Linked DNA regions of Homo sapiens: region 2 is linked to region 1. The links come from fine-mapping of genetic effects on gene expression. Tissue or cell type: whole blood. Region 1 holds a variant in brackets; the other region holds the start of a gene. All regions are shown on one strand. Distances are from middle to middle. Region 1 has its middle 24 kb from the start of TFCP2L1. Region 2 holds the start of TFCP2L1 (transcription factor CP2 like 1).

Evidence for each region. PIP is the estimated chance that this variant, and not a neighbour inherited with it, causes the effect.
Region 2: TFCP2L1 starts here. The variant in region 1 is fine-mapped to the expression of TFCP2L1 in whole blood (INTERVAL, PIP above 0.99).

Annotation. Positions count from the first base shown.
Region 1 is chr2:121,306,287-121,311,665 of GRCh38, reverse strand. It overlaps the pseudogene RPS17P7. Among named protein-coding and RNA genes, the nearest start is that of TFCP2L1, 24 kb to the right of the region's middle. The variant G/A (reference allele first, on the strand shown) is at 3,083.
Region 2 is chr2:121,282,450-121,287,828 of GRCh38, reverse strand. TFCP2L1 (transcription factor CP2 like 1) reads left to right here and starts at 2,627. Exons shown (of 15, transcript NM_014553.3): 1 at 2,627-2,781. The coding sequence starts at 2,720. RefSeq lists a silencer at 2,462-2,601.

The DNA.
Region 1 (5,379 bases):
TTGTATTACATTAATCCATTTTCATATGTTAAACCATCCTTGGAGTTTTTTATTCCAGAAGTAAATCCCATTTAGTCATAGTGTTCCTTTAATATGCTGTTGAATTTGGTGTACCAGAATTTTGTTGAGGAATTTTGGATCAATATTGATAAGCAATATTTGTCTGAAGTTTTATTTTCTTGCAGTGTCTTTGATGTCATGGTAATGTTGGCCTTACAGAATGAGTTTGAAAATGTTCCTTTCTCTTCAATTTTTTGTAAGAGTTTGAGAAGAAGTGGTGTTAGTTCTTCTTTAAATGTCTGGTAGAATTCACCAGTGAAGCTATCTGGTCCTAGGCTTTTCTTTGTTGAGGGGTTTTTGGTTCTGAATCCAATCTCCCTCCTACTGATAGGTCTTTTCAGAGTTTCTGTGTCTTCATCAACTCTTGGTATGTTGTGTGTTTCTATGAGTTTGTCCACTTCATCTGGGTTATGTAATATTTTTGGCATGCAGTTATTCTAGTACTCTTTTTTTTTTTTTTTTTGAGACAGGGTCTCACTCTGTCGCCCAGACTGGAGTACAGTGGTGCGATCTTGGCTCACTGCAACCTCCGCCTCCCAGGATCAAGCGATTCTCCTGCCTTAATTTCCCGAATAGCTGGGATTACAGGTGCACACCACCACACCGGGCTAATCTTTGTATTTTTAGTAGAGACGGGGTTTCACTATTTGTCCAGGCTAGTCTTGAACTCCTGACCTCAAATGATCCAACCCCCTCAGCTTCTCAAACTGCTGGGATTATAGGGGTGAGCCACGGTGCCTAGCCCTCTAGTACTCTCTTATAATTTTTTTTCTGTAAAGTTGAATGGCCCTTCTTTCATTCTGATATTAGTTATTTTACATTTCTCTTTTTTTCTTAAGTCTACTTAGTTAAAGGTTTGTTTTCAATTTTGTTGATCTTTTCAAAGAGCCAGCTCTTGGTTTTGTTGATTTTCTGTATTGTTTTTCTATTCTCTATTTTATTTATCTTTGCTTTAATCGTTATCCTTTCTATCCTTCTGCTAGGTTTGGGATATTTTTCTAGTTCCTTAAGGCGTAACATTAGGTTGTTGATTTCAAATCTTTCTTCTTTTTTAACGTGTTTACAGCTATGAATTATCTTAGCGCTCTTTATACTGCATCCCATAAGTATTAGTTTGTGTTTTTATTTTTTATTTTTTGCTGTTGTCTCAGGCTTACTGAAAATATTATAACATTGCAGAAAGAGTCAAAACAGTTCCACGTGGCATTTTAAAATTCATCCCAACTTCAGGCTGAGTGACCTGCAGGTTGGATAGACTGCCAATGTCCAAAAGCTTTAGCATTTCCCCAGTGTGAGAATTTACTTCAGTGACCTCCTAATCCAGGACTGAGACCTCAGGAACAGAATTATCTCTCCTTTTTCTCTCCTCCTCCTAAAATGTGATGGAGATATTTCTTACTGGGACCCTCTGAATCCTCTGCATCAGATGTGTGACATAGCCTGCTATCTTGTTGCAGGACTTCCTACTGGAGATAATAGCAATCTCCACACACACACACACACACACACACACACACGTTCATGTGGAAGTTGTTGCCCAGGCTCATGTAGTGCTTTTCTGTGATGACCCAGGCCACCTTATTCACGGCTTTGGTGTGAACATGACTCATCTTGGTGGGTCCTTGGTGAAAGAGGAAACCTGTTGTTGTTGTTTTGTTTTGTTTTTTTTTATGGTAGCAACGGCCTTTATTGGCTGCAGCAGGAAGTGGAAGAGGGGATATGGTGTCTGCAGATTAGATCACTGCCCTCCAAAAAAGCAGAAACCTGTTTTCATTTTAATTTGTCTAAAGATATTTTCTATTTTCCCTTGTGATTTCTTCTTTGACCCATTGGTTGTTTAAGAGTGTGTTGTTTAATTTCCACATATTTGTGGATTTTCAAATTTTCCTCCTGCTATTGGTTTCTAGTTTCATTCCAATGTGATCAGAAAAGACACTATGCATAATTTTAATCTTCTAAAATGTATTAAGACTTATTTTGTGCCCTAACATATGATCTCTTCTGGATAATTTTCTTTCTGTCTTTCTTTCTCTTTCTTTCTTTTTTTTCTTTCTTTCTTTCTCTCTCTCTCTTTCTTCCTCTCTCTTTCTTTCTTTCCTTCCTTCCTTCTTTCCTTCCTTTCTTTCTTTTTTCCTTTATTTCTTTCTTTGTTTCTTTCTTTCTCTCTTTTCTTTCTTTCTTCTCTTTCTTGCTCTCTTTCCTTTCCTTTCCTCTTACCCCCCCTCCCTCCCTCCTTTCCTTCCTTCCTTTCCTCCCTCCCTCTTTGCCTCCCTCCCTCCTTCCTTCTTTCCTGCCTTCCTCTCTCTCTCTCTTTCTCTCTCTCTCTCTCTATTTCTTTTTTTTTGAGAAAGGATCTTGCTCTGTTGCCCAGGCTGAAATGCAGTGGCATGATCATGGCTCGCTGTAACCTTGACCTCCCGGGGTTAAGTAATTCTTCCTCTTTAGCCTTCTAGGTAGCTGGGACTACAGGCATTTGCCACCACCACACCTGGCTAATTTTTTAAATTTCTTTTTGTGGAGATGGGGTCTCTCTATGTTGCCCAAGCTGGCCTTGAACTCCTGGGCTCAAGTGATCCTCCCACCTCAGCCTGCCAAAGTTCTGGGATTACAGGTGTGAGCCACCCTCCCTGGCCTTTGTGCACTTGAGAAAATTGTGTATTGTGATGTTGCTGGGTAGATGTTCTGTATATATCTTTTAGGTCAAACTTGTCTAAAGCATTGTTCGAATCCCCTATTTTCTTATTGATCTTCTGTCTGGTTGTTCTATCCATTATTGAAAATTGGGTTTTAAAGTCTTCTACTATTATCATAGAGCTATTTCTGTCTTTAATTCAGTTGATACGTCATATAATGAGGAACTCTGATGTGTGGTGCATATATGTTTATAATTGTTATGTCTTCCTGGTGAATTCACCCTTTTATCATTAAAATCGATTTTGTCTGATATTAACATAGTCATCCCTGCTTTGTTTATTACTATTTGCTTGGAATATCCTTTTCTATCCTTTCACGTTTAACCAAT[G/A]TGTATCCTTAACCCTAAAGTGAGTCTCTTATGCTGTAACATAGAAACACTGTTTTTTAAAGCCATTCTGCCAATCTATGTCTTATTATTGGGAAGTTTAATTCATTCACATTTAAAGTAATTACCCACAGGGAAGAATTTACTATTGGTATTTTGTTATTTATTTTCTGTATGTCTTGAAGAATTTTTGTACATCATTTCCTCCATTACTTCCTTTCTTTGTGTTTAGTTGATTTTTTGTTGTGAGATGTTTTGATTCCTTTCTTATTTTCTTTTGTGTATATTATATATGTATTTCCTTTGTGGTTACCATGAGGATTGCATATAATATCCCAAAGCTATAACAATGTATTTTGAACTGCTATAACTTCACTTGAATTTCAAACAAAAACCCTTCCTTTACAGCCATGCCCCCTCCACTTTACATTATTGATGTCACAGATTATATCTTTATATATTGTGTACCCATTAACATATATTTATAATTATATCTTATGCTTTTGTACTTAAATTACATAGAACAATAAAATGTGAAGTTCTAAAATAAAATCGCAGTAATACTGGTTTTACATTTGCCCATTTATTTACCTTTACCAGAGAACTATATACTTTCAAAGAGCTTTTAAGTTACTATCTGGTGTTTTTTCATTTTAACTTCAAGGATTCCCTTTAGCTATTTTTGTAGGGAAGTCTAGTGATAATAACTTCTCCCAACTTTGCTTATCTAAAAATGTTGTAATTTTTCCCTCATCTTTGAAGGATGGTTTTGCCAGATATAGAATTCTCCACTGGCAGGTTTTATTCTTCCAGTACTTTAAACATATTATCCCATTGCCTTCTGGCCTGCATGGTTTCTGCTGAGAAATTTGTTGGTAATATTATTGAGGACCGCTTGTGCTTGATGAGTTGCATTTCTCTTGGAGATCTGAAGATACCTTCTTTGTCTTTGGCTTTTTGACAGTTTGATTATAACACATCTTGGTGGGGGTCTCTTTAGATTTATCCAGTTGAAGTTCATTAAACTTCTTGAATGTGTATATTCATGTCTCAAATATGGGAAATTTGGGGTCATATCATTTCTTAAAATCTCTCTGACCCTTTTTCTCTCTTTTTTTCTGTGACTTTCATAGTGATTGTATTGGGCCACCTGATGGTGTCCCACAAGTTTCATAGGCTTTGATCACTTTTTCCTGCACTCTTTTTTCTTTCTTGCCCATCAGACTCAAGAATTTCAAATGACCTGTCTTCAAGTTTCTGATTATTTTTTTCTGCCTTTTCGAATCTGTTATTGAATACGGGCAGTAAAATTTTCAATTCAGTTATTGTATTTTTCAGTGTCAGCATTTCTGTTTGGTTCTTTTTATGTATACATAATTTCTATCTCTTTGTTGATATTCTTATTTTGTTTATATATGATTTTCCTGCCTTCTTTTAGTTCTTTGTCCATGTTTGCCATTAGTTCTTTGAACATATATAAAGCAATTGTTTTAAAGACTTTGTGCAATAAGGTTGATGTCTGTGTTTATGAAGATTTATTTTGGTCCTTTGAATTAGCCATGTTTTGCTATTTGTTTGTACACTTTGTGATCCTTTGTTAAAAATTGGGCATTTGACAAAACAGCCACCTTTCCCAGTCTTTGCAGACTTGTCTCATGCAGACCACTAATCAGCCAGGCATGAAGGCATAAGGTGTTCCCAGGTCTTTTCATAGGTGTAACCGTAGCACACTAGTGCCTCAAACTCCTGGGCTCAGACAGTCCTCCTGCCTCAGCTTTCTGAGTAGCTGGGACTACAGGCATGTACCACCTACCTTTAAACGTCTTAATTTCCCCTTAGATTCTCCCCCTGCTTCCTCTCAAGGTCTTAGGTATTCTATTGTATTCCTTAATCAGTAATTTCTTACCTCAGGGGTCTGCAGGTCAGTTTTCAGAAGCTATGACCATTGCTTCCCACAGGTTCTTCCAGCTCGAGATCTGAGCATTGTCACTTTTGGCTGTCTGAGCTCCAAGTTAGACAATTACAGAGACCAATCCCTCAGGCAGCCCCTGGACAGCCTAGAATGTGGTGTACTTGATTGGTTCTGCTCCCTCTGACTTATGGAAAGAAGCTGGGAACCAGGACATTGCCTCCCCCAAAGTGCACCAGCTGGGGAGGGGATGGAGCATAGGCAAGTCAAAACATCATGAAATCTTGTTTGCTATAAATCTTGAGTGATTTCCAGAGCTTCCATAAAGGTATTCTAACCAGTCTCCAGTTGTTTATTTAATGTTTCCATGGGGAATACTGGCCAGGATATT
Region 2 (5,379 bases), 24 kb after region 1:
GGCAGGCACCTGTAATCCCAGCTACTCAGGAGGCAGAGGCAGGAATATCGCTTGAACCCAGGAGGCAGAGCTTGCGGTGAGCTGAGATCCTGCCATTGCACTCCAGTCTGGGCAACAAGAAACTTCGTCTCAAAAAAAAAAAAAAAAAAAAGAGAAGCTGCCTAGGGGCCAGCCCAGAAGGGAAAAGCATTACTTCCTCTGCATTCTATGGTTAAAGTAAGTCACAGGGTCAGCCCAGGCGGAAGGGGGAGGGGAGGGAAACAGACACCACCTCTTGATGGGAGAAGCAGCATGAGGTCAATTTACTCCACCCAAGGTCATAGATTCAGATGGAGCTAAGTAGTAAACCCAGGTCTGAACCATCTAATAATATTGACTGCCCTTCCTCCAGGCCTTTGCAGGAGCGTCTACTGGGCCGGAAACCTCCCTCCATCTCCACAGATTGGTTTCACTTCCACTCACCCATCCATCAGGAGATATCACTTCATGCTGGAGCCTCTTCGGAGCTCCAGAGTCCTCCTCTGTGTTCCCAGGGCAGCCTCTACGTCCCTGACCACACTGTACTGTCACTGCTGCTTACCCATGGACCTCTCCTGTTAGAACTCAAGGACGAGTCCAGCAAAGGACATGTTCTTTCCAGACCACCCCAGAGTGTCTCCCATTTAAACAATGGGTTTGTCATGGACCCTGATGGGGTGAGGTTGGTTGTGGGGGTCGGTGTTCAGGATGTTTCTTTGGAAGTTCCCTTAAGAGTAACCCCTGGGCAAGGAACTGGAAGGAAGCAGGAGGGAGACCCTGAGCAGGACACAGGTCTTGTGACAGCTTTGACTGTCTTCATGGGGAGTCCTGGGGCTAAAATACCCCATCAGCACTGTCCCCAGTCAGGCAGAGATGGCCAAGCTTTTATACTTCTGCTGGGATAGTCATTGGGATGTGGGCTATCCCAGGAGGGACATGACAGAGGGCAAGGCTGCTCTCTGAGCAGGGGCAGTTCCTGGAGAAGCCGATGGCTGGGGGACTGTCTGCTGACAGCACCACCTGAAGCCGGGGAAATATTCCCATTCTCCTAACAGGGCAGAACAGTGGGGGGCAGTCCTTGAGGGCTGCACAGAGGAAGTGGTTTGCCAGTTGTGACCTATGGCTGGAGGGAGGAGGGCAGGAACAGCAGAGTGAGGGAGGGTTTTACCCACATCCATGCGTGGGGGAGTGGGGAGTTCTGGACCAGGTCCCCAAGGGATGTCATTTGACTGGATTAATACTCAGGGACAGAATCCCCATCTCCTCTGTGCCAGGTGCTGTGCCATGTACTGGAGAACCGGATAGCACCTGGATAGGGGTCAGGGCTCCAGGGAACTCCACTCCCTCCTAATGGCCCTCCCCTCCACCCCATGACCCACTGTCTACACTGCTGCCAGACTGATCTTTCCAAAAGGCAAATCATACATGTGACTCCTCTGCTTAAAACACAGAATAAAATCCTAGCTCCTTGTCCTGGCCTGCCAGGCCCTCTGATCTTCCCCGCCCTCCTCACCTCATCTCCTAAGCTCTCCTCAAGACCAGCCATGCCAAGTAGGTCTTCCTCAAGGCTTTGGCAGTCACTGTTGCCAAGGGGGTAGGGAACTATGCCTGGAACTATTTTTCCCTAGGTGATGTTCACAGAGATGCTTCCTTTGCATCCATCAGGTCTCAGCTCAATGTCACCTCCTCCAGGAAGGCTTCTCTGATTACTCTTTTGGTGCATTCCTTTTTTCTTTTTTTATGTTTACTCAACAAACATTTATCTTAACTATGTCCCATGCACTGTTCTAGGCAGTGCAGGTAACGGGGTGTTAAGCGAGCCAGGCCCTGTCCTCTTGGAGCTTACAGTCTAATGGGAAAGACAATCAGTACACAAGTAAAAATAAAAAATAAAAAAATGTCGGCCTGACTCGGGGGCTCACGCCTGTAATGCCAGCACTTTGGGAGGCCAAGGTGGGCGGATCACCTGAGGTCAGGAGTTCGAGACCAGCCTGGCCAACATGGCGAAACCCCGTCTCTACTAACAATAAAAAAATCAGTCAGGCGTGATGGGGGGCGCTTGTAATCCCAGCTACTCAGGAGGCTGAGGTAGGAGAATTGCTTGAACCTGGGAGGAGAGGTTGCAGTGAGCCCCGAGATCGCGCCACTGCACTCCAGCCTGGGTGGCAGAGCGAGACCCCGTCTCAAAAAAAAAAAAACCAACAAAAAAACCCCCATGATTTCAGAGCGTCTGAAGTGCTATGAAAAAACAAGAGCGAGGAAAGGCGACAGAGAGGGCCTAGGCTGGAAATCTCGGAGCCGCTCTGGAGACCGGCCCTGGGCGTAGAGTGGGGAGCAGAGGCCAGAGGGGCCGTGTGGAGCGGGTTGGGGGCGGCAAGGGTCACCTGAGCCCCACATCGGAGTTTGGGGAGAGCACCCGGCCGGCCCTAGAGCCCTCTGGTCTGGCCGCCCCGGAGGCGCGCTCGCTCGCCGGAAAGGCACGCGCGGGAGTCAGCCAGGTGCGGCTGCCGCGGGGAGCCGCCCTCCGGGCCGCGCTTCCTGGGGGGCGGGTCTCACCGCTGTCCCGCCCCTGGGCCGCCGATAAATGCGCCGAGCCGGCCGGCACCGCGGGTTCGGAGCGCGAAGCCGCCGCTGGGTCCTCGGCGCGCCCCGCGTCTGCGCTTGCTGCCGCGCCCCGGTCGGCGCGCTGGGAGTTCCAGCCATGCTCTTCTGGCACACGCAGCCCGAGCACTACAACCAGCACAACTCCGGCAGCTACCTGCGGTAAGGGCCGCGCGCGGTCCCCGCGGGTCTCGGGCCGGGCCGGCGGGCCGGGCGCCGTTGGACGTCCAGGGGCGGAGAGGGGGCGCCCCTGCTGGGCCCTGGCCTCCCCGCTGTCCGCCCTCTGGGGACTGAGAGACCCGCCCAGCGTCCCGCCTAGGGACTGACAGATGGACGCCGGCGGGACCCGACGTGCGGAGTTGGGGGCCCGCTGGGGAGGCGAGCGCGCAGAGCCCTATGTCTGCGAGGGCTCCTCCCAGGCGGCAGAGAGGGTGCAGGGCGCGCACCTGCCGGCCCGCCGCCTCCCCTGGCCCGTCCGCCCCCTGCGGCCCTCCTCTCCCCCGCGTATCGGAGAAGCAGAGGAAACTTCCTGCCAGCAGCCTGGTGCCCGGCCCGGGGAAGTTCGTCCCCTGCTCTTTGCCCGTCTCCGCCGGGGCCCCTCTCCCAGCCTCGCGCCCTCTGCAGTGCCCTTCCTTGGACGAGGGGCGGGCGGCGGGCTCGGAGGGGCAGGCCGCCCCACTTCCCGCGATGGTCTTGCGCGTGTTCGCCCGAGGCCCGCGTGGTTATTGCCCTTGATGGAAATCTTTCTTCTGCTGGAGGGATTTGAGTAGTGCCCTTCAGAGGGGAAAGTAAGTCCTGCGTGTTTTGCACAGTTCCCCACAGGCCCCTCTTAGCAGTAGGACCCCGTGTGCTCTCGCTCCCGGAGGATTGTTTTTCCCTGTTCTGCTGCTGGCCGGGACTAATGGGCAGTCATTTCACTTTGTGAACTCGCCTGAACCAGCTTTAGCCTGTCCTTATTTCCATCTTAGTCACAGTTTATGAAATGTGCCTAATTTAACCCAAAGGGCATTTGATATGGGCTCAAGGAAAATGAATGATGAGGCCGAAGGAGTCACAGGCATTGACAGCCCCCATACTAGAGCTACCTTTAAGTGCTAGTTTTGGCCCCAAGAAGTTCCCACTTAGATCTTAAAACGTTATTTGTAATTCCTGGCTGCTGGTAGGTATTTGTCCTCCCTGAAGACATCCCCTTTTCCTGGAGGCGGGGGAATGATTGGGTTTAGTGGATGTATCTGCTGTTTTTATTCATGGGCCAAAGTAGTCGGAGATGGCAAAGGTCTAGAGCCTTAAAGGCTGACAGCCACCCGGCAGACCACGGTGATGTCACCAGAGGGAAGCCCAGGAGGAGATGTTAATCACCCAGAGATTAAGTGTCCATTCACTTGCAAGAAATGCTACAATGGAATACATTTTTACTGTACTGAAGTTTTAGTTGTAGCTTTGGCTAAGTTTTAGTTTGCTGCCATTAAGTATGTTGCCATATCTTAACAATGAGTTTGAAGGTGACCCTGAGTTGAAGGTGAGTGTACTTGAAACTTCCTAGATACCTACAATGTCCTCACCCCGTTAGGGAACAATTCTCCCTTGCCTGGGAGGTACAGTTCTGACATCTGCTACCGAGATGGAAGTTTGTCTGGAGTAGCTCAGGTACCTTTTAGGATTTGGTGAAAGGAGGAGGGTGAGCGTTGGGAGTGGGTGGTGCTGTAAAGCCATATTGGCTTCTGGGGTCATCGGGGGACCATGGATAAAGAAGTCCTTGCCCTTTTTTATTTCACTTCTTGGAAGCTGGGAGTTTTGCCCTCAGTGAGGGCCAAGGTGGCGGTTTGTGCATATGCCCCTGGTCCCCTGACTCTAGAGGGAGGGTCTGGTCCTTTTCCTTGCGTTTTTTGTATTTTATTTTTGGTCGTCTCCTCACTTGGCAGAACTTCTGCAAGCTGTCTGACCTCACCAGGGTAGAGGCCTTTACTCCCTTCCCCCTTTCTGTTTGATGTTCTCGTGACTTTTATTCCTTGGCAAATAAAGATGCCAGGCTTGAAACAAGTTACTGTTGAGGGATGGTTCTTAACTTCCTCTGCCCACCCGCCCCTGTTTAAAAAATTTAAAGGCAGCAGTCCGTGGATTATTAACTTGACATGGTCTGGGCAAACATGAAATTATGCAATCCTCAGTGTTCCTAGAGAACCACCCGGGCTGGGAGTGTGCCCTGCTCTGACAAAAGGAAGACGCCCTGTGGGGGAAAGTCGAGACGGCCTTGCACCCTTATTTTTCGGCAGTGGATGGTGACGGGGGAGGCCCACACAGGGCAGGTTTTCCAGGTGTGTGCTCAATGCCAGGCTTTTTCTTCTCAAAATTGATGAGATGTTGATGGGGTGTGTGCCGGGTTTGTGTTGTAGAGACGCTTGTTTATGATGTGCGAGGAACAGATTGTACCAGTGACTCTGTTTATACAGACAAGTGGGGTCAGCTAATTGGATTCCTAGTCAGGGACCCACGAAGGGAAGAGGGTTATCAAGATAAGAGCACTGGCACTTATTTGGCACTTGTTTATGTGCTGCTCATAATTTAGAGACCTTACACAAGCCTTGCCTGCCTGTAGGTCATTCATGTTCTCAAGGAATTCTTTGTCCCTTGTAAGGGCATTTTTAAAATGCTGGGTTTTTTGTTTCTTTCTTTTTCCTTTTTTTTTTTTTTAGAGATGGTGGGGTCTCACTATGGTGCCCAGGCTGATCTCAAACCCCTGGCTTCAAGCAGTCTTCTCAC